Homo sapiens: one gene and its partners. The protein of the gene in region 1 purifies or fractionates together with the protein of each later gene. This does not show direct contact. Each region holds a gene or a part of one and is shown on either strand. Other genes may lie near its edges.

Region 1 (7,293 bases):
CATTCAGCCAGAGGTGCAAGAGAACACCATTGGCAGAATGGGAGGTTTGGGAAACCACTGTTTACAAGATGGGCCACTTTTTGTAACTGAAAACTTATCTAAGTTTAGTTAATTCTTCTAATGACTCAGATCATGCTAGGCACAAGACTTAAAAACCATACCATAAATAGGGATTTTCCCTTACTGTAGCAATATTTTGAAATGGTCTAATTAGCAAACAACTTTGGGTGAATTAACATGTTTAGGCATTTAGTACCATAGTACTTAGAAATCAGAGACCCAAGAAAGAAATGTTAAATGAGAATTTAAAATAGTTGCTTTTAATAATTAAAAGAATTTTACTTTTCACATTTCTTCTATCTGTAATTATCCTTATTTTAAATATATATATTTTTTAAAATATTTAAAAAATTATAAGGCAAGAACTGATAATACATGATTTCTAGAATAGTATCTTGTGCTGGAGTGTCCTACTAAATAAATGTGTGCCACATTCTCATAGCAAAAGCTCTAAAAGTAAAGCAGGTATTGATATAGTTTGGCTGTGTCTCCACCCAAATCTCATCTTGAATTGTAATCCCCATAATTCCCACATGTGGTGGGAGGGCCCTGGTAGGAGATAATTGAATCATGGGGACAGTTTCCCCCACGCTATTTTCGTGATAGTAAGTTCTCATGAGATCTGATGGTTTTATAAGGGCTATCCCCTTTCACTTAGCTGTCATCCTTCTCTTTCCTGCCACCATGTGAAGAAGGATGTGTTTGCTTTCCTTTCTGCCATGATTATAAGTTTCCTGAGGCCTCCCCAGCCCTGCAGAACTGTGAATCAAACCTCTTTCCTTTGTAAATAACCCAGTCTTGGGTATTTCTTCATAGCAGTGTGAGAATGGACTAATATAGGTATTGACTTCAGGTTGCATTCAATCTTTCAGCCAAACAAGATATCTGATAGTAAAATACTGCTTCAAGGTGCTAAATGGTACCCAAGTTGCCCATTTTTTATGCTCTATAGGCAGGTTCTCTTGAGAACAACTGAGAAACTTTGCCTTTAGATATCAAGGGACAAGATACCATTTTAAAATACTTTTGATTAAAAATAATAAACAATATTAAAAGGCACTGAATTTAAGGTCAGAAAACCTAGGTAGACTAAATTCACTGGATTTAAAGTCATAAGATCTTTGTGTGATAGAAATCTCTGAGCTTCAGCTTATCCATGTAGAAAATGGTAAGGATCCTCTCCCCCTCTAATTTGCAGGATATTAAACAAAAGGTGTCTGATTTGTGACTTGACTTGTCAAGCTGTGGGCTTCTATAAGACCTCCAGAGAGCTCACGGTTCAGGGAAAGGGGCAGCCTTAGAAACTACCTAGAGAAGGCACAGCCTTAGAAACTACCTAGAGAAGAAAATGGAGCATCAAGATTGTGCTTTACCCTTAGCATCTCTGCTTTCATCTTTTTTACATAATGAGCTTTAGTGTTTACCTCTCTGCTCACCAAGTTTTATTCTACTCAATGCTCAATTCGAAGGCTGCCTGTATCATGAAGATTCCCTCCATCGAAACCGAGCTTCTCCTTGTATAGAAAGACCATGTTTATTAAACTCATTTGCTATTGTATGTTACCTTGTGTTATTTTTTGCATCTTTGTTTATATAGATTTTGTTTCCCTAAGTAGCCCAAATATTTGAGAGTGGTCCTACCATTGACCTTTGAAACCCCAGCAATCAATACAGTCCCTATACATAATGTAGTGCCAATAATAATGTGCTAAGTATGTAATTTTTTTTCTACTGCTTTTAGTTTTTTGCACAACCTACCCTACGGAAAAAATTAAACACGCCCTCTTTCCCACTTCAACTAAACTTTTTGTTTTCTTTTTTCCATGTTTCCTAACGATCTTGATGAGCAATCAACAAATATACATTGAACACTCTCTCCCTGCCAGGTGTCAGGTTAAGCACTGAGGATCAAGGTCAACCAGACAGGTATAATACCAGTCTTCACTGAACTTACACTCTGGTGAAGGAAGTAGGTAAAAATTAAAAAGCGAATAAAATAATTGCAAGAATTATTAAGTGTCTTGAAAGACATAAAGGAACTACTTTCAAACAATTCATTTGTAATACAATTGGTAAAATTATGACAGGTCAGGGCAGCCCTCTGTGTAGACTATAAGATAAGCTAAATTGGAGAAAGGCAGAGGGAGTCATTACATTTGCATAAGCATACAGTTTGTATAATTTTAATCCTGTGTAGTTTCAACTTTACTATATTTTTTAATGAGCCTTGTTAACTTTAGATTTTAAGTCAAGCTATAAAATATATATAACTGAACCTTACATACCTGAGTCCCTCTACTGCTGATTTTGGGAAGAAAAAATAAACTTCCACATCTTCAGATTTCTCAGGAATCGGGCACCCCGCACCATAGCCCTTACTTGTGAGGAGTAGACTTCAAGAAGTAAGTGGGTGCATGTGAACGCGCAGGCAGACTAAAGGCTACAAAAGGGGATGAAATATGGTTTCTCAGGGTGCCAAATTTTTCATAAGGTGCAAATGACTTCAAAGGATAAAAGGGGCTAGTATTTGAAAGGGTCGGGCTGCAGAAGGGGTACAACTGATGAAGTCCCCAATTTCACTGTCTGGGGTTCACTCTTGATTCATTTATCCATTAGCATTTTGGGCTGGGAAGTCTTTGGTGTATACCAAAGGCTTTCAACTCCTGAGGCCAGGGCCCCGTCCTGCTGCCTGCAGGCCTGGCACTATGTCAGCCTATGGCAGGGGCTCAGCAAACACTTGCTGGGCCGGTGCCTCCAGCTCCACCCGAGCTGAGTCTGCTTCCCAGCCGCGCTGCCCGCTCTGCTCCCCGCACCAACTAGCCCGGGCTTGCTGCCCGCTAGGCGGACTCAGAGACCATCCTCCCCTCTCATCCACCCGCAGACAGACAACCCACCTGGAGACCCCAGCCTCTCGCGTCACCACCGCCGGATGGCCGCGGATAGCTGCCGGGAGTTTCCGTCTTGGTCTCCTTGGTTACCGCGTTACCTCGGTACCCATAGCAACCAGAAAGCTGGGTTCTGCCACTGTCCGCCGGCAGAGGGCGAAAAGGAGCCTGCGAAATGAGAGAGAATGGTGATCACAGGAAGGAAAAGGGCGGAAAAACTCAACAGGCTCTGGAAGCTTTCCGCCAGAGAGGATCTTGGAGATTATGTATGTGCTAAACCTGAGCATGTGTCATATTCCAAGCACAAGTGAGAGACTTATATGTCATATTTGATTCTTCCTCATAGCAAGCCAGCTTAAATCTAAAAAAATTAAGGCACAAAAAATTTGACTATCTTAATCCAAAATTACAAAGCTAGCAAATGGCAGACCTACAAATTAATTCAAGGAGTTTAGTCTCAGAACTCCCACATTTATGCTATGTTTAAATGATTTATCAATGGCTACCATAGGCAAAGTCAATAGAGATTCCAGGTCTCTTCAAAAGTCCAGAACTCTCTTTTCTTTGTACCGAATACATGACCCGTGGAGTCTAATGGGTATAAAACAAAAAGCAAAAGCAAATATATGCACACACACACACACACACACACACACACACACACACACAGTTAACCCACAATTCTCAACTCAACTCTTCCGAACAAAGCTGCACCTGTAGTGAATTTATCTTTGGCTTCCTAAATATGCTGTTTTTTATCTCCCTTTTTAAATACTGCAAGTAGGATGTGTGGTTGGTACTGCACTGTATAGGCTTCTATGCTTAACCACATTGCATCTGTCTCGGTACCAGACTAACAATCCTAACTATTACAGTTAATGTACTAATCTTTACACCATTACTTTTGACATTACTATGCCTGCCAATACCCATTTAAAAAAAAATAATGATTTCACTTGGCATATTCAATTATATAAGATTACAACCACTATGGATAAGAGAAGACAATGGTAGTCTTCTGGTTATAAGTCTGGATTTTGGAGTCAGGCAGATTCAAGATTGAGTGCCAGTACTGCCACAACTTACCTGCTGTGTGACCATGAGCAAGTAACAATGCTCAGTCTAACTGCTTAAATGAGATAACAGTACAGTTAGTCCATACGTAATGTAGTATGGAAGAGTAAATGAAACAATAAATATTAAGTATTTAGCTCTAAGCCAGGCCCATATTGAGTGCTTAATAAACAGTAAGAAACAGTGGTGCTGGTGTGGCTATGATGGTTGCTATTAACGTGTTCATGGTATAACTTTACCACGTCCTTCCTTTAACTTTAATACAAGAACTAGTTTCAGGTGGATGTGCGATACTACTGGTTTTCTTGCACAGACTATTTCCCATACAGGCGCGCTCTTCAAATTACCAAAGATATTTTCAGCTTTCGTCCATTTACTGATCTATTCATTTATTTATTTATTCCACAAATATTTATTGAAAGTCCATTTCCTAGATCCCAAAAATACTGGAGTGAAGAAATCGTCAAAGCCCCTCCTATTTTCAAATATATTTTAACAGGAGCAGAAAGGCAATAAACAAGTATAAATGCATGTCAGCTGCTATGAAGAAAACTAAAGCCAAATAAAGAAATAGAAACTAATTGAGTTCTGTTTTAGGGTAGATGGCCAGGGAAGTATCTGAATGCAAGGAAAGAGAAAGACATGGGCCACTAGAGGAAGAAACAGTCCAGAGAGAACAGTAAACACATGTCAATTATGTCCCAGTAAAGATTATTTTGCAAATAACTTCTCCTCACTTCTACAAAGGACTTTTACTCCAAAAAATGATTCTTACAATGCATTTACTTACACAATAGTAAAATTAAACTCATAAAAATAATGTATAAAGTATTCTTGCACTTTTTGAAAGCATTAAAAGAACATTATCTTATATTTAGAAAAATAGCTTATGCACAGTTATGAAAAGGCAAAGCAGAGACAAAAACTAAGCCTATGCTAAGTCACATAGTAAAATAAAAAGTATGAAGTGCTTGTCTTTCAGAATGATGATTAGTGACAAAATGAAATGAAACATGTCAAAACAATTACAGCTCTAGAGAGATGATATTCTCTCCACTGAAGTAAAATGCGTTTAACTGGCACACCAGCAATGCCGCACACAGTTTACCACAACTATATCAAGAGCACAGTATTCCTGAGGGTTTTTCCAAACTCATGCTTCTTTGTGCCACAGTGGAGACAAGGTTTGAATACAAGTTTTCTGAACTGGAGATATTCAATTTAAAGAGATAAAAATTACCGGCAATGCAGAAATTAAGAGCACAGATTTACATGACTCATTTTACTAAGCTTGAAATAAGGGTCAGGGACTGTAAACAAGCATTATCCAAAACTTAGAAATAAGGTAAAGCCAAAAACAGCATGTCTTTTCAATGCCATACTAGAATACTGTTTAAGATAATCTGAGCATTACATGATTTTCTAAAAAAAAGTGTTGCTTTTCTTATCATTAACTATTGATAAAGTCTCTGTGTAATGTTGTATGTTTATTTGAAGATTTTTTCACCTGCATTTTTCATATCATTTGTATCTGGATATGTAAATAATGTCTTTCCTTTAAATAAAATAATTTCAAAGCTAATGGTTTTATTGCACTATACAACTTTAACCAGTTTTGTATCTAACCTAGAAATCTCATACTAATATTTTATCTCAATTCCTATATACAGTCAGCTACCAAATTTTCTTTGAACCAGCTTTACCATTCTAATAATTCCGTCCTTAATGAATTAAACTGTATCACATGTATATTCTCTACTTAAAGAATATCTTGTTTTTAAGTATTGCAATTATATTTTGATAATACCAAACCTTTGGAAGAAAATGGGACAAATATCATATCTGCAGCTTTCCAGAAGTATTCTCTCAATTTCCATTTGCTCTTTGGCCCTTCAGATTCTTTTATAGGCAAAAGTTTGTGGGCATTTCAAGGTAGCAAAACCAAATTCCTACCATCTCCTTTTTTACAAGCCCTGAAATGTGGTTTTACTTTTACATGAAGCATCTACTTTCTTTATGCCTTGGTAAATGCTAAATATAACATCCTATTACATATGTATGGGGTTTTTCAACTTGTCAAGAAAACTGAGCTTTAGAGACAACATAAAATTACAAAAAATCCTTAGCAAAAACCAAATTAGTATGATATAAATATATTTAAATGCATCCGAATGGCTAAACTTGAGGAAGAATAAAAAGAAACTTAGAGTTAAGAGGTGACATTGGCCTTTTATAATTTTTCTCGGCTTTGTAATTTCTGCCTATCATCCATGACACAGAATTTCTAAGCAAATAAATTTTCATAACACAAGGCAATTATTACTGATGCTTCACAAATGGAGGAGAATCATCAGGGCCTATGATAAATTTTCGATTCCTGCAATGTGCAGTGTCTTCCAAATTGAAAAATAAATGTATAGCCTTGTTGAATGAGCATAGTTAAATTTAATCAACATTTATTCAACACCTGTTCTATTCCAGGCACGGCCCTAAGATAGGTACAAAGGTGAACAAAGACACCGTCTCTGTCCTTGAGTAATTCAAGTGAGAGTTTGCAACTAATTAATATGTAATGTATTAAGTACTACGTTCAAAAAGAATGGGAGCATTACATGTTTGTGGCATGGGCAGAATTTCTAGTTGGTTCAAACATAGTATATGTGGCAAAAAGATAAGAATGAAAAGTTGTGCTAGGAGCACATTAAAAAGCACTTTGAATGTTACCCTATTCACAATGGAAACTGTGAAATTTTCTTTTCTTCTCTCCTCTTAATACCCTCAAATAATTTTTAAAGCAGATCTTTAAGCATCTCAGTATGTGTATAGCCGCATCTTTCAAGGGTAATTCTGGTGGCAATGTAAAAATAGAGCAAGTGGAAAAGAGGAGGACAAGAGACACTTTTAAAATATGGTTATATTAGTCCAAGATAGAAATAATAAGTCTTGAATAAATCAAGGCAGAGGGCAGAGGCCAAGTGAAACAGTTTCAAAGGATTTTGTAAACTCTCAATAGGGCTTGGAAAGTACAGATACATGGTTAGCTAGGAATATGGAACAGAGCTGCTTGTCTCTACATTTGATAGCTTGGTAAATAAGTAGATGGTACTGATAACCAGCCGTGGAAGAGCAAGAGAATAAATAAGCTCACAGAGAGTGGGGTCAAGAAGGCAGGGCAGACTGAGTTTTTACTTTTGCAATAGCAGTAGGGAGGAATACAAAAATATGACATAGCTCTAGTTACTTAGGAGACAACCATATATATTAGGTTACCATC
Region 2 (7,023 bases), on another chromosome or scaffold:
AAGAAAAAAGTAAATCTGCCATTTTTGGTATTAATATAGCAATAAACTTTACATAAACTTCACTGAAAACTGGATCTTCAAAGACCAATGCTTTTAAAAATTTTTTTTTTTAATTTTTTTTTAAATTTTAAAGAGACAGTGTCTTGCTCTGTCACCTAGGCTGGAGTGCAGTGGTGTGATCACAGCTCACTGCAGCCCCAAACTCCTGGGCTCAAGCAATCCTCCCACCTCAGCCTCCCAAGTAGCTGGGACTACAGGCATGTGCTACCACACCTGGCTATTTATTTCTATTTTTTGTAGAGACAGGGTCTTGCTATGTTGTCTAGGCTGGTCTCAAACTCCTGGCCTCAAGCAATCCTCTTGCCTTGGCCTCCCAAAGTGTTAGGATTACAGGCATAAGCCACTGCATCTGGCCAACTGGTACATTTATCTGCCCAAGTTGCTCTCCTGCTCTCCCAAGTCTGATCTGTCTCAACAGCCTCAGGAAGCCCAAGCTGAACAGCATACCCTGGAGTAACTACTGCTACTCTTCAGCTGTGTACACATGACCTAGACTAAATGAGATAATAAATGGGGAAATTGTTTGTAAACTATAAGGTGCTATACAATCTTACAATATGATTTTAGAACACTATTTTCCAGAAAATGCATGTTAACTTAGCTTTTGTAACATAAATGATAGGTTAAAAGCAAAGTTTTCCTTTTATCTGTGTATTAAGAACTGTGTGGCAGAAGTTAAACCACACAATATTCCTTCCAAGGGCGTGCAGCACCCTAGTCTGGGCCAACCAGCTGGCTCACGAAAAAGACCATTCTAACCAATACTAACAAGACCAATACTAACACCAAAGCCTATTCAAACTTCTGACAAGCTCAAGAATGAATCTGAACATCCAAAACCAATGGATCTCTTATAATTACTGTGTAATATATTTTTACTATATTTTCTGTTACCTAATTTTAAGAAACCTATTCAACAACTAGTATATTTACAATGAAAGGCAAACTTATCCATTTCCTGCCTGACCTGCACCACTTCTTCTCCTTGTAAGGCCTCGATCTGCCTGGGCCGCCGCTGCCTGTCGCTGTTCCCATGGCCAAGTTTACCATAGTCACCATCTCCCCAGCTAAAGACCTCACCACTTTCAGTTAGGGCCATAGAGTGCCCATCAGAACCACAGGAAGTCACCAGCTGGGTCACCACAAAGCCTGGAACAGAACAGAAACCCAACAGGAGTCACTGGATGTTAAAACTCTCCTCTTTACTTGCAGCTGCTACTGAATACCCTCAATCAAAAACCACCGAATTGGTACTATGAAAATAAGAATAATTTCATTAGTTTTTTTTTTTTTTTTAGATGGAGTCTCACTCTGTCATCCAGGCTGGAGTGCAGTGGTGTGATCTCGGCTCACTGCAACCTCCACCTCCCCGGTTCAAGTGATTCTCTTGCCTCAGCCTCCTGAGTAGCTGGGATTACAGGCATGTGCCACCATATCTGGCTAATTTTTGTATTTTTAACAGAGACAGGGTTTTACCATGCTGGCCAGGCTGGTCATGAACTCCTGACCTCAAGTGATCCGCCCACCTCGGCCTCCCAAAGCGCTGGGTTTACAGGCATGAGCCACAGTAACCGGCCTAATTTCTTTAGTTTTAAATTGAATTTGTAGCCATAACCTAGCAAAACTGCGAATAGTCACCTAAAATAATGGTGATGACAAGGAAAACGAGGATGACAGCAATAGTTACAGTCATTAATGACTGGCTATGCTCTAGCCACTCCTATAAATGCTTTACATGGATTATCTCATTTTCTACTTTCACATAGCACCTATGAAACAGATACTAACATCCCATTTTTACAAGTGGGAAAACTGAGTCACAAAGAGGTCTCGAAGCTTGTGCAATGTCCCAGAGCCAAGGACCAGTAGAACCCATAGGAACCCAGCACACATTCTCATCTTTACTGCTGTGCTCTTCACACTCAGATCACAATGAAAAGAACCTGAGCTTCTAGGAACTTGTTTTGAACTCATAGTTACTTGTATGCTTTTACCTAAAAAAACCGTCGGTGCTCTCTTTGTAGGCTTCAGAGTCATTATGAGTTCAGTTAATGAGCAAGCCGGGGGCTTGTACAGTGGTTTCTCCAAAGGTGTTCTCTCTCCAAGTCACAAAGAACTCTGATGAAGATGTCCTTTAAAGTCTTTAGCACATTTGCAGATTTCCATATAAACTGATTTTTAATTTTAATGAAATACATGCATGATTGCTACTGCTATTAACATCTGCCTACTTACACTTTTGCAATTTTTAAGCATTTGTTTACAATCTTCAGTGGGTCTCAAAAAGTGTTATTTATATTTCACTGAATTCTAGCATTGCTATAAGTAACCTGCAATATAGCTTAAAATATGGAAATTAAGGCTGCACACATGCCTAAATAAGGATTTAAATGTAAGTGAAAACCTGATATGATTTTATCTAGCAAAGGTTTGAGAAGGGCAAAGGTTTGTACGACCAAACCTACATTAGGCCTTAGGTTCTAACCATCTTTTTATTAAGGACAATTTTACCTTGTAAGGCTGAAATAACTGTCAGCACATGAAGGTCATCTGAATTTCCTTGTCCTAATCTGCCATAACTTCCTTCCCCACAAGCCAACACTGTGCCATTGGCCTGGATGACAAAGGTACAATTCTGACCACAAATGACCTAGTATAAAAACACAGAATTAAATATTTTATTCTTTATTATATTGCTTTAACATGCAAGCACTTGAAATGATTCCACGTATACATAGAATGCTTTTATAATTGTTTTATCCTTTTACTGAAAGGGAAGAGTTGATATAACTATGCAGTCCCGTAACTCCTTGATGACTATAAAACTGCTTATTTAACCAAGAGATGTATGAGATTCATCCATTTAAAATAGTTTAGAACAACAAAATGGATGAAAGAAAAAGGAAGGGGTGATGGGGAAACATTAAAGACTGGGCTAGAAAGAAGCAGAAACTCGTACATAAGAATGAGTCATGCAATCTGGACTAGCTGAGGTAAAGAAGAGCAAAAGAGAAAGCAGAGGCCTCGAGAAGGGTTTGGCGCTATATCGTACCAGGATTATTAGAAAAGGGGAGTGGTCGATAAAATCTGGCTAAAGATCCTAGGAAGTTTTTAGCCCCAAAGAGAAAATCACTAATTAGGAGTATCTAAACTGCTAGAAATACATACTGGGCAGGCCTAACACATCATGATGTTAGTTCATTAAACTTGAAAGAAAAATTTAGAAATTTGTTAACTTCTTAAGTCTGATAAAAACCACACCAAGTTTTTATTTGAAAGCTATATATCATGACTTTCTTTAATGATTCCTCATAATAGATTATGAAATGGACAAGCTTTATCCCACAATAAGACAAGCAAAAGAATTAGAATTTTCAGTTCCCATGTTTCTTTTCTATTTTTTATCCTGTTAGTTACCTGTTGGGCCTGTGAGAATGAGGGAGCTGCTGCAGGTACCATTACATTTCTTCCAGCTTCTGCCAGCTGTCCATGCCTACCAGCACCCCATAAGTAGACATCACATTTACCTCCCAGGTGCCAGTCCTAGAAAACCACAATCATCTCAAAATTAGAGTCATCCATTCACTCAAACAGCCATGTACTACGTACCAAGTGTGTGCCAGCCTGTATGGGAGACACCAGGGCACAAACACACAAGCATTTAGAATCAAAACATTGACTGAGAACCATCATACAGTTATCTTCATCTTTACTGACCTCAGGTCTGGAAGTTGCCCAAGACATAATTTGTTCATCCATGCCGTTAATCCATTTACTGTTATCCTGAAAAACAGGGGGTACATAATGATCAATTCTGCTTAGGCAAGATGCACCTGCTCTTAACCACAAAGTCCTCTTCTAATCATTAAGTCTTATTTCCAAAAAAGAATATGGTAATATTATGATAAATTAAGAGCAGTTTTATAATTATGTCAAACTTGATTTTATGCACTGTCAGTATTTCCCTTTATTATAAACACTTTCACTATCACTATCACTATGGCATTGGTGATTCAAAGCTAGCCATGTGTTTTCTGAACACCCACAGGTACAAGGTCATGTGGAGGACCCCACACCCCTGTAAACTCTTTGTGTAGCTGTGGGCAAATTACTTCATCTTTCTGGGCTTCAGCTTCCTCATCTACAAAATTACAGAGTTGGGCCAAATGGGCTTAGAAGGACATTTTCTGATTAAAATATTGTATACTTTTGTGCCACGTGACATTTCAGTCAACAACAAACTGCATGTGTGAAGATGGTCTCTTAAGATTATAAAACCTTATTTTTATTATATCTTCTATGTTTACATACACAAATACTTATCACTGTTACAAATGCCTAGAGCATTGAATACAGTCATATTCTGTACAGGTTTGTAGCCTAGGAGTAATCAGACTATACCGTATAGTCTTGTTGCAAGTAGGCTGTATCATCTAGGTTTGTGTAAGTACTATACACTCTATGATATTCCCAGCGTCAAGATTGCCTAACAATGCATTTCTCAGAACATATCCCCATCATTAAGTGATGCATAGCTACAGTTACATAATTTTACTTAATTTATATTTGTCTGTTTCATATTGTATCAATGTTTATCCAAATGTTTGTATACATAAATCTTAAGTATACAAAGAGGTTGTTAGATCATGTGCTGTCCTGTAGTCTAAACAGGTATTTTATCTATGTCACAGTTTCTAGAGTAGACACTCTCAAATACAAACAGAATGAAATGACAATTAGAATGCTCTTCTATATTTTATTTGATGCTAATTAAAGACATGATTGAAATGCCAAATAAATTAGAATCTATATGTGGCATATAACCCACAAGATGACCAGGAAAAGATGCTAAGATATATACAACTAAAGCACTAACAAAGTACCTATGGACAAAAGAAAATGAGAAAATATGGGACTATGTCATTGAGAGGTGGCAGGTTTACAAGAGTTCAACAGTGCTTACATTATCAATTCCTGTCACTATGGAGGCCTGCCATCAGATTGAAAGTGACTATCTGAAAGAAAAATATTTTCCATTTCTCTTAAGGGTATCCTTCTAGCCATGCATACCAGCAAAGACTTATTAGGGGTCTGCTACATGCCCAATACCCATGATAAAATCTCAGCTGCAAATAATAGCAGCTCACAGTACATTTACCATTAGAAATACAAGTTCATCCTCTGGAACAGGTTCTAGATCTGGAACGGTAAAAGATTCTGGAAACTGGGCTCCATTGGTCAGGGCTTCGGCAGCTTTTATAGTGGTTGAGAAACATTCTAACCAGGCCCATTCATTTGGATTCCAGGATGCAGGGTCAGGGAGACAGTTCTGGTGGTGTGGTGGCACTGGAGGGTTACACAACAGCTGATCCAGATGAAGTCCCACAGCAAGGGAAGCCAAGCATTGCATATAGGGGCTATGAACAAGTTGGTCACCACAAACCACATGAGGCTAAAACAAAATACAAGGATATAATATGTCAAAGAGTTTGTGCCAAATATTCTAAATTAACCTACCGTAGTCTGAAAGTCTGGAATCATATTTTTCAAGTTTACTGTTTAAGCTTTTTGCTAGGAAATAATTTTAGATTTAGAGTGAGTTGTACAGATAGTACCGAGGATTTCTGTATACCCTTCGCCCAACTTTATCCAATGTTAACATCTTATACAACCCTGGCACATTTATCAAAACTAACAAACTAACATTGGTACAATACTAACTAAACCACAGAACTTTATTTGGTTTTCCTCAGTTTTCCCATTAATACTCCTTTTCTGCTCCAGGATCCAATCTAAGCTATCACACTGCATATAGTACATTTTCATCATGGTTTTTCTTGATTGGAAAAAAAAGCAGGTAACTATTTAACCACAGAGATCTGCTCTTCTCACTTTCCTCCTTTATAAGAGAATCCTGGTAGCCATCAAAGGAAAAGCAAAAAGCTGGAAGACAGGCTACTTTAGGATCACTGTCTGGACAAGTTCAAACGCTGCAATTCCTCATTCCAGTATTTAATGACCCTACTCAATTCAACATAGCTCTTCCACTAAATTTTCCACAAAGATTTATCTAATAAGTGGAGACGATATTCAGTCTGATACCCGCATCCATCCCTATCCCTCAACTTTGGAATGGCCAAGCCATATAAAAATAGATATATGTGTGGGTCAGAAAAGGGAAGATATTCTGCTGCATAGGTATTTTAAGAAGCTTTGGAGTGAATAAATAATCTGAAAAGCAGTAATACAAACTTGGTGTTTGTTTCTTTATTTTACTCTGGTGAAAATAAAGCAAGAATAGGCTTAGGGTTGCTGAACAACTCTTTTAGGCATGACTTACCTTCATTTGATTCTGCCCAAATAGCCCCACTTATTATCCTCAGACCTCATGCTTTTAAGGGATAAGTTCAAGGCTATAATCACATTCCAAAGCACCAGGTATCTGTGTATCTCTAGGAGTGAGTGTAATGAGTTACCTTTTCATAGGCATACTGCTCCTGAAGCATCATGGGGAGCCGCTCCAAAAATGCTCTCATGCAGGGAGCCATGTTCAATCCCAGAACACCCTGCTGTTTCAATGCTGTCCTACAGGTTGCCAAAACATGATTGGCAGCTGCCCATTCTGCTGTACAATTCACGACCAAAACATCCTGGTTGAAAATAAATCATGCCACATAATAAATTTGTTTAAATAAAAAATAATGCTATCACCATTTAATCTGCGAAATTCCTTCTAGTAACTGGGACATCTTTGCTTTTTGGATATTTTATATCCAAAAAGGCTATGCTTTTAATGCCTATGGAACTTCAAAATATCCTAAATTTTGTCTAAGTAAAAAATAATGAGAAATAATAAAATTTGTGAACTACCTCTGATTAGCTGGTACTTTTTAAGGAAAAAATGTCAATAATTAACTATTTCTTCAGAACCTGCAGAATAAGGCATCTACTATATTTCAAAAG
Region 3 (7,758 bases), on another chromosome or scaffold:
AGAAGCTGGACAGTGTCTGAGCCCACCACCCCTTATCTCTCCATCTCCCATGCGCTGCATGTCACACAGCCCGTTATCACACCATTGTAGAGTTGTGGCTGGTTTCTTGTGACCATGTTTCCTGGTTCCCATCCTGGTACATTGACATGCCTGTATCTGCATCTGCTTGCTCTCCTCCTTAAATTGTAAATTTCCTAAAAGCAGGAATGAAATTTTATTCCCCAGCTCACTGCACCTCCATAGAACCACACTCAAGTCAAGCAGTACTGTTGGAAAACATCACCATTCCTTAGGTTTAAACGTTGAAGGGGAAAGTCGTGATTACAAAGTGGAACTTGGCTTAAGGCTAAAAGTAGGACCATATAATTTATTGTCACATCTTGACACTTTTGAGAGTGAAGGGGGTGCTATTCATAACCACCAGAGACAACTTAGAAACCAGGTCTGCCCCAGGGAAACACAGAGGCAATGGTCATCCTTGCTAGAAAGATCATTCCAAATAGATGTTAGTTACTCCAGAGTTCCAAGAGGGGCACCTCAAACCCCTTCAGTCACCAACCTGTGCTTGCATTCTGAAGGGTCTGCACCAGATAGAACTTGTGGCAGAAAGCCCAGTACAGGGAAGTTCTTCCTTTTATCTGACTCAAATCCTTACAGATTCAAATTAATTCCACTTCTTATTAACCTCAGAGCAAGAGGCAACAATGGCATAGGAAGGCAGCCACAGAGAAGAAAAATCTCACCCTTGTACCCTCACCCTCCGGTTAGGAATTCCTCATTATGAGTTTGACTGCTAGTTCTCCATCCTTCAGCTGAACCAAACTCAATCTGGCTGGCCCAGAAACTCAAAAGCCCAGGGTTTGGGAGTCACTCCCAGTGAGAACAGAGTTCATGTCCAACCTGCCCCACATCCCCTGGAGCTTTTCATAAACCAAACCCAAGAAAGAAATGGCACATGTACACATATTTTTGAAACCAGAAAACTTTTTCCTCAACCTAAACTATAGCTTCAGGGGACCTGAGCACTGGGAGGGATTGTCTCCCACCAGCCCCCAACTCCCAGTTCCCAGAATGCTGATTCAAGAGCACAGCAGAGCTGGGCTGACTGCGGAGGCCCAATGAAGAAGTGGGCCACTCCTCCTCCTTCTCCCACCCTCCATCAGCCCCATGCTGGTGTCGCTGTTAAGAGCAAGGACCTTGATGACTTCTTTTTGTTCATACACATATTTGTCATATGGGGTGGGGACAGGGGGACAAGGATCTGGGCCCAAGAGGAACTGAGCATGCAGGTTCCTGCAGCCTGTGGCCACCATTAGTTACATGCCCTGGGGCACACATTCTTGCCCAGGGACCAATAGTGGAGGGAAATCCAACGCTCCCACCCAGTCACCACCATCCTTTCCCCCTTTATACCAGATCTATTTTATTTTAGAAAGGAGGTATTTCAGCAGCATTGCATAAAGACAGGGTGACTGCAGTCAAGCAAAGGTCACTGAGACAATGCAGACAAAAACTAGAGAGCAGGCCACCTTCCCGGTATGACCTTGGACTAGTCACTTCACCATTCCACGCTTCAGTTTCTTCACCAACAAAATGACACAATAGGGTGATATGTTTACAAGGTTCGTCCTGGATCCAAGGGTTGAACATTTAACTCTGTATTTCCTGAAGAAATGGCTAAAGTGAAATTAGTGAGAAAAGGCAGAACTCAGGGTAATCTTTTATTAATAATTTCTACTTCAAAAGGAACAATTTGACTCTAGAAAACAAGTGTATTTACCCCCTCCTCTGGTCCTACTTTTTCTCCCCCACCGACCTTATACTTTTGCTGATGTCAATCTTAACTGCAGGACTGGGAGTCTCATGAGGCAATAACACGGTCAAATTAATTTTGCCAGTGCTGATCCTAACCTACAAACTCCATCTGCAATTCCTCGCAGTAAGTCTGACCATAAAAGTGAAATTCACGTTACTTATGATCTAATAAACCTATTGCCTGGGTAGAAATAAATCACTTATAGAATAATAATGCCCACCAAATTTCCTGCAGTCCTTTCAAATCTCCAAGTGCCATGAGGGGTATTCCTCTCCAAAATAAAGTTATCTTGACGGGGGTGGGAGAGTCAGCATCTTGAAGGGTGGGGAAGAAGGAATGGAGAGCATCTCACACGCTCGCCAAAAATTAAAAATTAAAAATTCAGCCTTTACACACGCACACACATACACACACCTCTTGTCTGACTGTACAGAGATAGTCGACAAGCTTTCAGGTTTGCCCACTTTTATTGTGCTAATAATGCTAAGTGTGGAAACCCCCACCTCGTGCTGTTCTGTGTAAGTGTACCGCAACTGCAGGGTGCTCGCCTCCACTGCCAACTGATGATACACTAAAGAAAGCCCGTTTTTTATCCAGATGTAAAATGAAGCTGCACCCCTCCTATACCTGCCGGAAACTACATCTCTCTGCACACACCCTGGGGTAATACGCACTGCACCCGGCGAGTTACCTGGAATACGTTTACTAAATCGACAGGAAGAAGGAAAGATCAATGCGATTCAAGTGCTGACGGTTGTACTCGTGAAGGAAAAAAACAAATGCAAGCCGGGAAGTCCCCAGTGGTGCCTGCACCTAGGAGGCGACTGCAACGGATGGATGCGGGGGTGAGGAAGTGCAGGGAGAGGAAAAAACTGGAGGGAGGCGGGTTGCAAAACTGCTCACCTGTCCGTACACCTTGATGGGCTCGGGCTGCAGGGCAGCGCTCCGTTTCCTCCGGAGCGGCTTCTCGTCCGCGCGGCTCGCCCCCCTGGCATCCCCGCGCGCCCACAGCCGCAGCTCGCGCGGGTCGCCCTGCACCACGAGGAAGCCCCGGTCCTGGGGCAAGGGCGCGCTGCCGCCGTGCAGCCTCTGCGTCCAGACTTCGCAGAGAGCTCCGGGCGGCAGCAGTGCGACCAGGGTGAATAGGAACGGGAGTCGCGACTCCCTCCTGCTGCTCCGTGTCGCCATGTTCGGGCGAACGCTACTGCAGGTGGCGCCGCCGCCAGGAGAGAATGTGCAGCGCGAGGCCAGGAGAGCCGCTGGGCCGGGACCGCGCGCGCCGCTCCCGGGGCTCCAGGCCGCCCGCGCCGCTCCGGGCCGCCCCGCTGCGCCCGCCGCCGCTGCCGCCAGGTCCCGCTCGGTTCGGCGCGGCGCCGTCACGTGTGAGGCTCGCAGCGCGTCCCTTTCGCGCACTTTCTGCGCTCGGCGGCCTCGGCGGCGACTCCGGCCCCTCCCTGGCGCGGGGATGGGGAAGTTAAGGCAGCGAGCGCCGGTGGGGGTGCGTCCCTTCCCTGGCGGGCACACCTCCTTGTTCTCCCTGCAGGAATGAAGAGTTGCATGGGGCTCGCTCGTTTTCTCTGGAGTTAGTTGCGTCCTATACAGGGTCGTGTCGAGGTCGTCCTAAACCGTGGCCACTTTCCTGAGTGCACAGCCCGCAGTAGCGCCACAAGACCACCTCCCCCCGGCCCCGGCCTCATCCCCACCTCCAGGGAAGAGTCCAGAGCCACAGAATTAGCTCCTAGAACGCAACCAACAAGAGTCCAGATGAACCCGCTCTATTGGGAAACTCACAGTTTTTCATCTACTCTGGGCACCACAACGTATTTGCAGGGGCCACAGCAAAAACTACCCTTGATCAAGCTACGTGCCCCAGCCTGAAGCACAGCAAATAAACATCCTGCACAGAGGCAGTAAAAACAAGGGTACATCTGACAAAGAATGCACCACACCTGGACAATTATTACACAGCTATACAGGGTGTGCTTGCACGCACGCATGAATACCTGTGCGTGGCACAGGGCCCCAGCGGCGGCTTGCTTATGATCCCTCCAAGGTGACCAAGCACTGAGCCACCCTGCCTCAGCAGTAAAATAGACATATTTACCAGTCCCTTCAACCCACAGCCAGGAGCTAGGCAAACACCCACAGAGGAGGGAGGACACACTTTAACCCTACATTCAGCTTGACGAGCCAAACTCTCTGAACCACAGGAGATAAAACTTCTGCCATGGAACTGCTAAGGTACGCCCAAGGAAAATATTTTTTTTGCAGGTTAGTGGGAGCAGCCAAAGTCTATGTACTACTGCAACCTTTCCTATTTCATTTTATGTTTCACTGCCCTCTGAACTCAGATCCTGGTTTTTGATAAGAATAAAGACACAGCAAGCAGGGCTGAAAGGGAGACTACCTTTATAGTTGCATACAAGCTGCTGTTCAGGGGAAGGAAGGGATGGTCAGTTCAATTTTCTAAAAACATTCCTCATCTCCGACAAGCCACGGTAGCCCGATTCCTACCCCGGCCCACTCTAGTACTTTTCAGGTAGCTTAGCAAAGCCCCCTCCTCTACCTAGGACTACCACTGACAACCTGCCAGAGTCAGGCCAGCTTGCCTCATCTCCCTGAAGCCAGTATTCAACCACCCTACCCTACCCCATGCCAGACTTGCTGGGGACCTCTGCCTCAGGTTCTGCACTCTCCCACCTCCTCCCACACCCGATTTTCTCCCCAAGTCAGATGATGTCTTTCTGTCCATCTCAACATAATTACAGAACCATCCAGTTCTCCCCACCAAGCAAATCATGCATTCTCTATGTTAACCACCCTGCTTTGTTCATTATACATTGTATACAGGTATCAAAATACCACACTTTCCCCAGTGTGGTATTATTGGGGTGCCTTCATCCTGCACCCCAACTTTGATGTTATTTCAGAGGGATTGAGGAAGTGGTAGCTTGTTTACAACCCAGAGCTGGTTTTGAAGCTGAGAGGAACGCCTTGCTCATATTGTGCAATTCAGCTCTAACTCATATATATAACATATATATTTATTATATACTTATATATGTCAATTAAAAATAATAATTCAAACAATCATGCATCCTCCAAGAAAGCCACTGAACCACTGTCACCTCCCACCCCTCATCTAGATCAGCTCTGTCTGGTCAGCATCACCTTACCAGGAATGGACAACCCCATGGTCTCTCAGGACCAGCAGCAAAGATATCTCTACTCCCATTTAGCCCTCAAAGGAAAATGAAGGGAATATGGCTAAAGTGAGAACATCCTGTAGATGATTCAATTATTGGGGTTTTTCCAACATATATTTAATGAGAACCTTCTCTGCAAGAGCAAGTGTCAGAGTCCCAGCAGAAAACAGAGACAGGAGTCTCCTAAGTGTGGATTTGAAGATGGGCATCTGTTTGCCCACACAAACTGCTGGCTTAAGGTTCAGATGGCCCCTTGCACAGAAGGACTAGTAGGGCAGGGCCAGCTACTTGCTCATTTTGATGTTGATTTGCAACTTGAATGCTAGAGAATTGGTAAGAATATTCAAACATGGTTAATTAACTCCTTGCAAGCCCTCCTATCTAATCATTATCTACATTCCAAACCATTCTCAGGTAGATAATCAGCAACCCCCCAAGACTGTGCCTGCTGCACAACTACAGAACGCAGTGGAAGACACGCTGAATTCTGAGTCAGAAGGTTGACTTTCTAGCTGTGGGGACTTGGCCAAACCTCCTCAGAGCTTCAGTTTTCTCATCTGTAAAATAGAGATCTTAATCCCTACCAATCTCACAGGACTGCTGAGAGTATCAGATGAGGTAAGTATATAAAATAGCTGTGCAAATTTGTGTGAAGGCCTCCAGAGAGAAATAGTGCATGCAGGTGGCATTAGAAACATAGATTCTAGTCCTGGCTTTGCAACCAAATTATTATGTAATTTTTTGTCTTGATCATCTTGTCTCTTACGATTTCTTCATAAGTTAAATGAAAAGACACCTTTCAGCCCTGACCACTCCCAAACCTTCAGGACCCCCACTGGGTTGTGAGATAGGAGCAGCCACAGGCAAGGTCACCCAGGACAGGAGTTAGAGCTGAATCGTGCAATATGAGTGAGGTGTTCCTCTCAGCTTCAAAACCAGCTCTGGGTTGTAAACAAGCTACCACTTCCTCTATCCCTCTGAAGTAACATCAAAGTTGGGGTGCAGGATGGAAGACAGTACCATATCCCCCTCTGTCCCATCTTGCATGGCCTTGCTCGGATGCTGCCCAGCATCATGACGAAAATCAACATGCACGGAAATGTAATGATAGACTCACAGCTGTGTATAAAACAGTCTTAAGCCTGTTGTCAGACTTTAAACTGCCCTCCTCTGTCCTACTGCCCATCTTAGGCCACTGGAGATGGAGGTAGAGGACAAACACACAGAGGTCACAGTGTCCTACATTTTTATCCAGGTGGAGTCATGTTTAAAATAGCAGCAAGGACAGCCACGAAGAGGAAAAAACTCCCCAAAGCCTAATTTGACTTCTTTCTGTTCTTTCTCTTCCTGTGGCCTTCTCACATGCTCACCTCCTGGCTGGCCAACTTCTATTCAGCCTTCAGGTTTCAGAGCAGCCTCCTTAGGCACCTAGGCTAGGTTACAGCCCTCACTCTAAGGCTCTAGTCCCCTGTAGCCTTTGATACTTCCTCTCTGGTCACTTGCTTAATCTCCATCTTCCTCTTAATCTACAAGCAGCAGAATGACAAAACCAGTCTATCTCATTCAAGTCTAGACGCCCAGTGCCCAGCATACTCTTGGCACATGGTGGCACTCAATGATATTTATAGGATGCATGCATTTAAATGAAGGTGAGAAGTGACACCACCTTTGTCCTGGTGGCAATGGTTGGTTAAGGGGCCAATGTAGTTGAATCTCAGATCTTTTCTTACCACCATCTGCTTCCCACCTCGTTTTCTCCCCCAAAGCAGGCCTCTCTGAGTCACGCAACCAGACCAGAGTCATTAAAGCAGAAAAGGGACTTCCCTGCCCTTAGGATGGTAAACATTGTTCCCTCTTCCATGTTACTTTGGCCAAATAACTACCATTGACCTCACCAGCTCAGGCAAAATAGAAATACCCGCCTGCCCCCAAAGAAATAACTCCTTCTCCTGCTGTTGCCAAAATCTACTTCAGTTAGGAAAGCGTCCAAGATAATTGATGAGGTTTAAAATACAAATGCACCCAGAGCATAGAATAAGTAACTTATATTCTCACTCTTGATTAAATTAAATCCAAAGAGGAGTTTCTGGAAATAGCAGTAAGTTATTTTGCATAGCAGTGATTTACATTTGCATAACATTATAACAGCATTATCTATCTCATTCCATCGCACAGCAACCCTTTGAAGTGGGCCAAAGCGAGAATTATTGTCACCCCCATTTTACAGACCTTAAGCATTGAAATTCAGAAAGGAAGACTATTTGCTTTGCCTAAAGTTAAACAGGCTTGCTAACTTACTGTTAGTAAGGGATAAATTTGAACCCAGGCTCCCTTTTTCTGCCACATCTGATACCTCTCTTAGGAAGAGAAGAGCTGGTATTTCAAGTCCTGGGTATAGTGGAACAGCGGGAATTAGGGCAGAAAGAAGGAAAGGGAGTGGCTGTAGGCCTCACCTCCTTCACAACTCAGCCCTGCCTTAACCAGCACTGTCTCCCTTCCTAGGTACCTAGCCTAGGTGAGATGCTGTATCTGCTTGACCCTCACGCCCTGATTGGGACAAGTTAGCAGTAATGTTACAGTTACAAAGCTCACAAGTCCAGTCCTGTTTTCTATACTTTTCTAGGAGATGAATTTAGCGAGGGATTTGGTTTCCAATGTGTTTCAAAACCTGTGAGAGAGCGCAAGTTTTAGAAGGTCCCTCAGACAGGCACAGTGACTTATGCCCTTAATCCCAGC
Region 4 (7,023 bases), on another chromosome or scaffold:
CGTCAGTGGTCTTCAGCCCTCGCCCGATCACTGTCTCCATGTTGCTGCCGTTCAGGTCTGCTCGCCTTGGGGAGAGCCCAGTGTTGGATGAGCAACCAGACTGACCCAGAATAGAGTAGAACTTTAACCCATGTTCCCATAACTGGACCCCACTGAACTGTAAGCTCCACAGGGATAGAGACCAGGTATCTATGAGTACATTCCTCAGCACCCAGCATGATAGATGTTCAATAAAATAATTGCAGAATGAAGGAACCAGTTCTTAGGAGGACACAGTATTTCCTGCTAACTGGACATAGTGGCGGTTGCCAGGGGATGTCTTGCTAGAAGACAAGTTTATCATTCCCCACATACCTTTGGGAAGAGACAAGGATTGCTAGGTGGTGATGATAAGAAACGCAGATTTGTCAAAACCAACCTGTGCATTTTTTAAAAGTTAAAAACAATTTTAAATACAAGTAGATATGAGGTTTCATTATGTTGCCTAGGCTGGTCTTGAACTCCTGGGCTCAAGCAATCTTCCCGCCTTGGCCTCCCAAAGTGCTGGGATTATAGGCGCGAGCTACCACGCCAGACCCTAATTGTGCACTTTTGCAAAGGCCCTATGGGCAGGAGGGAACTCTACCTCAGAATGGGGAGCATGTCACTGTCACCTAGGGGACTTCCCTAAACTGTATATGCCTACCTGTCCCCAGTTTGAGATTCTAATACATCCCTTGGGGAGAGCAAAGGGGAATGTTCCCTGTTCCTCCATGTGAGAATATCTGCCATGGTAAACCACTCTTACTGGTGGCAGGACATCATATTCCTAAGCTGTGTTAGGGCCACAAATTTAAAGACTAAAAATAAAACAACGAAAAAATAAAAAACAACAGCTTTGTAAACCACCATAAGACTTGGCATTTGATTGGGGCTCCTTTACTGCAATACAGATACTGGTTATATGGCCTACTCATCAGTAAGTCCTAGGGGATTCTTGGAGCTCCCTCAGGGCACAATGGTAGATGTGAAAGTCTCCAGGTCCCCTGACTTTACCTGTTTTTTTTGTTGTTGTTGTTTGTTTTACATACTAGGCTTCCATATAATCTCTAAACAAATGAAAGTTTGAAACTCTGCTGTAAGTGACAACACTACAAAGTGAACAAGTCAGGATTAAAACTCACTATCCAAAGTGCCAAATCACTCATCCATTTAGTGGTCAGAACACAACCTCACCCATGGGCGACCAGAAGCAAATCTGTGTCTTCTGGAGGTTTCAGTGTTGCTCATACCTGATAACATCCAGGAACACATCTGTGTAATAGACCTTTCCATCCACGCTGTCATAGTCCAGGGAGATGACATTGTTGAGCTCAGGAACAGGGACATGCACATCGGTGTGGTCACTGGTGTCCAGTGAGATACGCCGGATGGAGCCACGGCTGGAGAAGAGCAGGTAGGTCTCAGGAGAGGGATCACAGGTCTTCCCATCTCCCTTCAGCTGGATGCCAGTGGGGCAGGCACAGGAGAAGCCAGAAGGCCGAGGCAAGCAGAGGTGGGAGCAGCCGCCATTTCTCGAGCCGCACTTGTTAAAACCTGGTGATGAGAAGCACAAGTATTCACACCTAGCCTGGAACATCATCTGAATCTTACAAAGGTCCCAGTTGTTTGTGGCTGGCTCTTTGCTGTTCTAAGTGACAGGATTCAGTGCCTGGCAGGGTGAGGTAGAAGGAGGGTCTGCAGGAGGATCTCCAGGAGTCCTTTGAAGGTGACAGCTGTAGTACCAGCCATACCCAGAGAGAACACAGCCCAATCTGGAAGGGAGCTTAAACAGGTCACCGTCTTTCTGGCTGTAAAGGAGCTCTGTGCTCTGGATATATCTCTGATGTTGAGATGGCCCCAGAAAGCCAGAGGCTCTGACTCACAGCCCCAGCCCTCTGACTCTCACCTAGTGGCTGTGCCCGGTCCACAGCCTGCATGTCCATGAGGCCTGGCAGGTTGGACCTCACGAGGATGACATTGCTGCCAGTACCCTTGTCAGCACGGTGGATGCTCCGAGTCTGCCAGTCAGTCCAGTAGATATAGGAGTCGAGCAGGGTGAGGCCATATGGGTGCTGCACCGGTGACACCAATGTATGCCGATTGGCACCATTCAGGTCAGCAGCCTCAATTCGCTGCAGAGGAAGGAGAGGGTGGGGGGTGGTGATCAGCAGATTGGGAACTCTCCATGGAGATCCTAGGCAGGCCTTTCCCATCTTCCCAGGCTCCTGGGAAGCAGCAGGGACACGGCTCTCACCTCGGTGTGGGCATCGGCCCATAGCAGTTGGGAGCTGGCCTTGTCCACAGTCAGTCCATTGGGCCATCCTAGGTTGTTGTTGATGAGCACCGCGCGGTCTGAGCCATCCATTCCGGACCGCTCTAACTTGGCATTCTCCCCCCAGTCTGTCCAGTACATAAACCTGAGTGAGGAAGAATATTAGCTATATTAGCTAGTTATTCCAGCAGCTACCACATACCATGAATACTTAACAGTATGTCAGATACACTTGAGTACTTACAGTATGTCAGGCAAAATTTTTGCTTGACAAAGTACTTTGCAAAATACTTCATGTGCATTATCTCAACCTTCATAAGGGCCACAAGGTATGTATTTTCACTACCACCTCCATTTAATAGGTAAGGAAGCTGAGAATTAGAGAGGTTAAATACCGGACCCAAGTGATATAGCTAATACATGATGAAAACATTTCAATCCTGGTATTCTGATTCAAGGCTCATGCTTTTAACTTCTACACTGTACTGTCACCCTGCGAGAAGTCACAAGAGAGTGGAAGAGCCCCAGGGAGGTCACCTTGTTTCTGTGATGCAAGCTTCCTCTCCACTACCCACCTTTACCCCGTCATAACCCCAGCTGAGCTGGCCCCCCACACTACCCAGTGCGATACAGCCAGCTCTCACCCCATCTCATGGTACAGTACGATGGCCCGGGGACTGTCAAGGTTCTGCCACACCAACACTTTCCGCATGGACCCGTCCAGGTTGCCCACTTCAATCCGGTTTGTTCCCGTGTCTGTCCAGTATACTTTCCGGCCAATGGCATCAACCGCGAGCCCATCTGTGGTCTGTAGCCCTGTGGGAAGTCAAAAGAGCACACTGGCTCCTATTTTAAAACAGATGGGCTATTTCCCCAGCCCTGTTGCCAGACAGGTGGTCCCTGGGCTAGGAGGAAGGCCCACCTGTGGTGATGATGTCCTCATGCTGTGAGCCATCCAGATTGGCACGACTGATCCTGTGCAGTGTGCTGTCAGACCAGTACACCTTTCCTGGAGAGGGAAAGCTTGGCTCAACCTAGACCCTCACCGCCTACAATGGGACACACACAGCTGATTCATGTCTTGAAACACCAGAGCATGTCAGAGAGCTCTGGAGCCTCTAGCAGAGGAAATCAAGGAAAACGCAGAAATATCATAGCAGGATAGCTCTTGGCAGAGACGGAGAGAAGAGGGCCCCAAACCATGCTCTCACAACCAAAGAGAGAGTGCTAGAGAGACAGGGACAGGGGCTATGCCAGAGGGAATGGGGAACAAACACCCTGGCTCTTGGCAGGAGACAAAGGTGGTGGGAGAGGAAAGACAGTAATTGTTGAAGGGCAGGGACAGAAGGCCAGGTGGGAAGAGAGGGCCATACAGACCTTCCTGGGGGTCTACTCCAATGGCAATGGTGTTCTTCATGGTAATGTTGATTGGTACCACCACATCAGCAAAATAAGGGATGTCCAGGGAGACCATGCGAATGTCTATCCTCCTGGCGAAGATGAGGAAACTGTTCATGCCTGCCAGGTGGAGAGGAGGGAAGAGGATCACTCGAGCACAGCCATTAAATGGATTTGGAATCAGGCAAACTGAAACTCATGCCCTGTCCCTGCTAGTTTCTAGCTATGTTATTCTAGGCAAGTTATTTAAATTATTATTATTTTTTGAGACAGGGTCTTGCTGTGTCGCCCAGGCTGGAGTGCACTGGCATGATCATGGCTTACTGCAGCCTTGACCTCCTGAGCTCAAGCGATCCTCCCACCTCAGCCCCCTGAGTAGCTGGGACTACAGGCACACACCACCATGCCCAGCTAATTTTTGTATTTTTTTGTAGAGATGGGGTTTCGTCATATTGCCCAGGCTGGTCTGAAACTCCTGGGCTCAAGCCTCTGCCCACCTCAGCCTCCTAAAGTGCTGGGATTACAGGCATGAGCCACTACTCTCAGCTTAAATTATTAGGCCTCAGTTTTCTTATCTATAAAATGGGGACAATAATGGGGTGGCTGTAAGGGTTAAAAGATCATGTACATAAAGCACTTACCATTAGGTCTCACACATATTCATAAATAATGCCTCTTTATTAATATTATGAAAGTGGCTCTCTTTGAAGGACCCTTTACCATGAAGATTAAGAAAGAGAAAAAAAGAAAGGGAATAAAGGGACCCCAGGGGGCTTTACTCACAACCTGAGAGGCACAGTTCACAGCTCCTTTCTCACTCAAATTCCCAGGGAGGTTAGAGTTCAAATGCAGCCTACCCTGCAGCATCTCCTAGGGAGAAGCCTTGACTTCCGACATCTGGGTAGCCAGGTACTGCTTCTGGGACCCTCCAATAAGGTTGTCACATAGGTTGTGCACTCACAAAAGTGGCACATCTAAGGAGGAGGGTACTGTGACATTGTAGATATCATACATTTCTGTTTTTATTATACCAATTTTGGGCAGTTAGAAGTGTCTTTTTTTTTTTTTTTTTTTTTTTGAGACAGAGTCTCACTCTGTCACCCAGGCTGGAGTGCAGTGGCGTGATCTCTGCTCACTGCAACCTTCACCTCCCAGGTTCAAGCAATTCTTCTGCCTTAGCCTCCCAAGTAGCTGGGATTACGCGCCACCATGCCTGGCTAATTTTTGTATTTTCAGTAGAGACGAGGTTTCACCATGTTGGCCAGGTTGGTCTTGAACTCCTGACCTCTAGTGATTTGCCTGCCTTGGCCTCCCAAAGTGCTAGGATTACAGGCATGAGCCACCGTGCCCAGCCAGAAGTGTCTTATTCCAACCAAATCAGTATATTATGACAATGTACTAAGAGATGAGAGGAAAGTGTCTTGAGAAAGGAGCATCTTTATCTAATATGCATGAAGACATCATAAGAACTAGTTGGACCCTGCCTCCAGTCCTTTCTACTTGCTCCCCAGGGCCTCTCCCCAGGCCCGTCCCCTTTTCTAAAAGCCGTGAGTCTCTCCCCTGGGCCTCTAGAAGCAGCAGGACTCATGGTTTCTCAGACCACATTGGAGCCCATCTGCAAGGAAGGAAGAGAGCCATTGCCCCCTCCCAGAGAGGCTGCATCTAGATCTGTGATGCTTTCACTCACCTGGTGAGCAGGTCTTGCCATCAGACAGCAGGTTGATGCCTGTGGGGCAGGTACAGCTGAATCCGCTTGGATTTGGGGACCTAAGACACAGGTGGCTACAGCCGCCATTCTCCATAGCACATGGTGTAGACACTGGGTAGAGAGGAGGGGATGTTCAATGGGGAGAGCTAGGGCATAGGAGGGCCACGGAGAAGCCAATGCGAGCCAAGGGCTGCTCACCTGGGGGCCGGCGGCGGTGGAAGACATGGATGTCCATTAGGTTTTCCAGGTTCTCCTGCAGAGTCTCCCGGTCCAGCCCTGTCAGCCGGTCAGCGCTCTGTATGCTCTTGGTCTGCCAGTCAGTCCAATAGATGCGCTCTCCATAGAGGGTCAGCCCAAATGGGTGGGGGAGCTGGCTTCCAATCAGCACCTGCCAGGGCCCCAACACTGTGTCATCTTCAACAAAGTCTGACAGTACAGAGCAGTGGCAAAGAGCTCACTGTGGACTCAGAAAGCAGCTCTCCCACTAACACCTACTGGGTGACCTCCAGTAAGAGCTACTTATAAAATCTCTCTGAGCCTTGCTCTATCAATCTGTGACTTGATCATGCCTGGCTCTAAGGGTCGTGTGATGGTTTTATTGGAAGATGTTGGAAGTCATCTATTACTCACATCATCTCAAAGTATCTCTGGACAAATTACTTATTAAGTACAAAATTAAAAAATAGCAACTTTACAGTGGACACTACCTTAACCATACAATGGCAGTAAGTATCACAATAACGGAACAGGCCAACACCTGTGTCTACTGATGAGACACACTGAGAACTCAAGGACATGACTTCACTTAGTGTAGTATTCCTGCTGCAAATGCACACTCTGAATCCAATCACAAGGAAACATTAGATAAATCCAAGTTGAGAGACATTATAAAAAATAACTGGCCTTTACTCTTTAAAAATGCAAATGTCCACTTTGGGAGGTCCAGGTGGGCAGATCACCTGAGGTCAGGAGTTCGAGACTAGCCTGGCCAACATGGCGAAACCCTGTCTCTACTAAAAATACAAAAATTAGCTGGGCGTGGTAGCGGGTGCCTATAATCCCAGCTACTTGGGAGGCTGAGGCAGGAGAATTGCTTGAACCCGGGAGACAGAGATTGCAGTGAGCTGAGATCGCACCATTGCACGCCAGTCTGGGCGACAGAGCAAGACTCTTGTCTCAAAACAAAACAAACAAACAAAAAATGCAAATGTCAATAAAGTCACAGAAAAGCTGAGGAAATGTTCCAGATTAGAGAGTAAAGAGACTAGATTAGTTGGGCCCGGTGGCGCACAGCTCCAGCTACTCAGGAGCCTCAGATGGGAGGATCACCTGAGCCCAGGTCAGCATGGGCAACACACCAAGACTGCAGTCTCAAAAAAAAAAAAAAAAAAAGCTATGTGTGGTGGCTCATGCCTATAAACCCAACACTTTGGGAGGTCAAAGCAGGAGGATTGCTTGAGCCTAGGAGTTCAAGACTAGCCTAGACAACAAAGTGAGACCCCCATCTCTACAAAAAATAAAAAAATCAGCCGAGTGGCCTCAAACCCGTAGGCTCCTGAGTAGCTAGGGTGCAGTAGTAGGTGCCTGTGGTCCCAGCTACGTGGGAGGATCCCTTGGGCCAGGA

The links.
Region 2: the proteins of ZBBX (region 1) and HERC1 purify together in Homo sapiens (affinity purification with mass spectrometry; 2 studies listed by BioGRID and IntAct, with this or other methods). This does not show direct contact.
Region 3: the proteins of ZBBX (region 1) and SORL1 purify together in Homo sapiens (affinity purification with mass spectrometry; 2 studies listed by BioGRID and IntAct, with this or other methods). This does not show direct contact.
Region 4: the proteins of ZBBX (region 1) and LRP4 purify together in Homo sapiens (affinity purification with mass spectrometry; 2 studies listed by BioGRID and IntAct, with this or other methods). This does not show direct contact.

The regions. Positions count from the first base shown.
Region 1 is NC_000003.12:167,377,293-167,384,585, forward strand, and holds the start of ZBBX (zinc finger B-box domain-containing protein 1), read right to left. Parts: upstream 3,006-7,293; 5' UTR 2,955-3,005; intron 2,501-2,954; 5' UTR 2,346-2,500; intron 1-2,345.
Region 2 is NC_000015.10:63,634,934-63,641,956, forward strand, and holds part of HERC1 (probable E3 ubiquitin-protein ligase HERC1), read right to left. Parts: intron 6,711-7,023; coding exon 6,537-6,710; intron 5,513-6,536; coding exon 5,219-5,512; intron 3,844-5,218; coding exon 3,778-3,843; intron 3,604-3,777; coding exon 3,478-3,603; intron 2,711-3,477; coding exon 2,572-2,710; intron 1,210-2,571; coding exon 1,028-1,209; intron 1-1,027. UniProt on the Homo sapiens protein: Involved in membrane trafficking via some guanine nucleotide exchange factor (GEF) activity and its ability to bind clathrin. Acts as a GEF for Arf and Rab, by exchanging bound GDP for free GTP.
Region 3 is NC_000011.10:121,447,578-121,455,335, reverse strand, and holds the start of SORL1 (sortilin-related receptor preproprotein), read right to left. Parts: upstream 3,023-7,758; 5' UTR 3,005-3,022; coding exon 2,720-3,004; intron 2,662-2,719; exon of another isoform or gene 2,369-2,661; intron 1-2,368. UniProt on the Homo sapiens protein: Sorting receptor that directs several proteins to their correct location within the cell. Along with AP-1 complex, involved Golgi apparatus - endosome sorting.
Region 4 is NC_000011.10:46,873,529-46,880,551, forward strand, and holds part of LRP4 (low-density lipoprotein receptor-related protein 4 precursor), read right to left. Parts: intron 5,788-7,023; coding exon 5,598-5,787; intron 5,511-5,597; coding exon 5,379-5,510; intron 3,812-5,378; coding exon 3,671-3,811; intron 3,303-3,670; coding exon 3,216-3,302; intron 3,110-3,215; coding exon 2,938-3,109; intron 2,439-2,937; coding exon 2,276-2,438; intron 2,154-2,275; coding exon 1,928-2,153; intron 1,576-1,927; coding exon 1,272-1,575; intron 889-1,271; exon of another isoform or gene 66-888; coding exon 1-65. UniProt on the Homo sapiens protein: Mediates SOST-dependent inhibition of bone formation. Functions as a specific facilitator of SOST-mediated inhibition of Wnt signaling.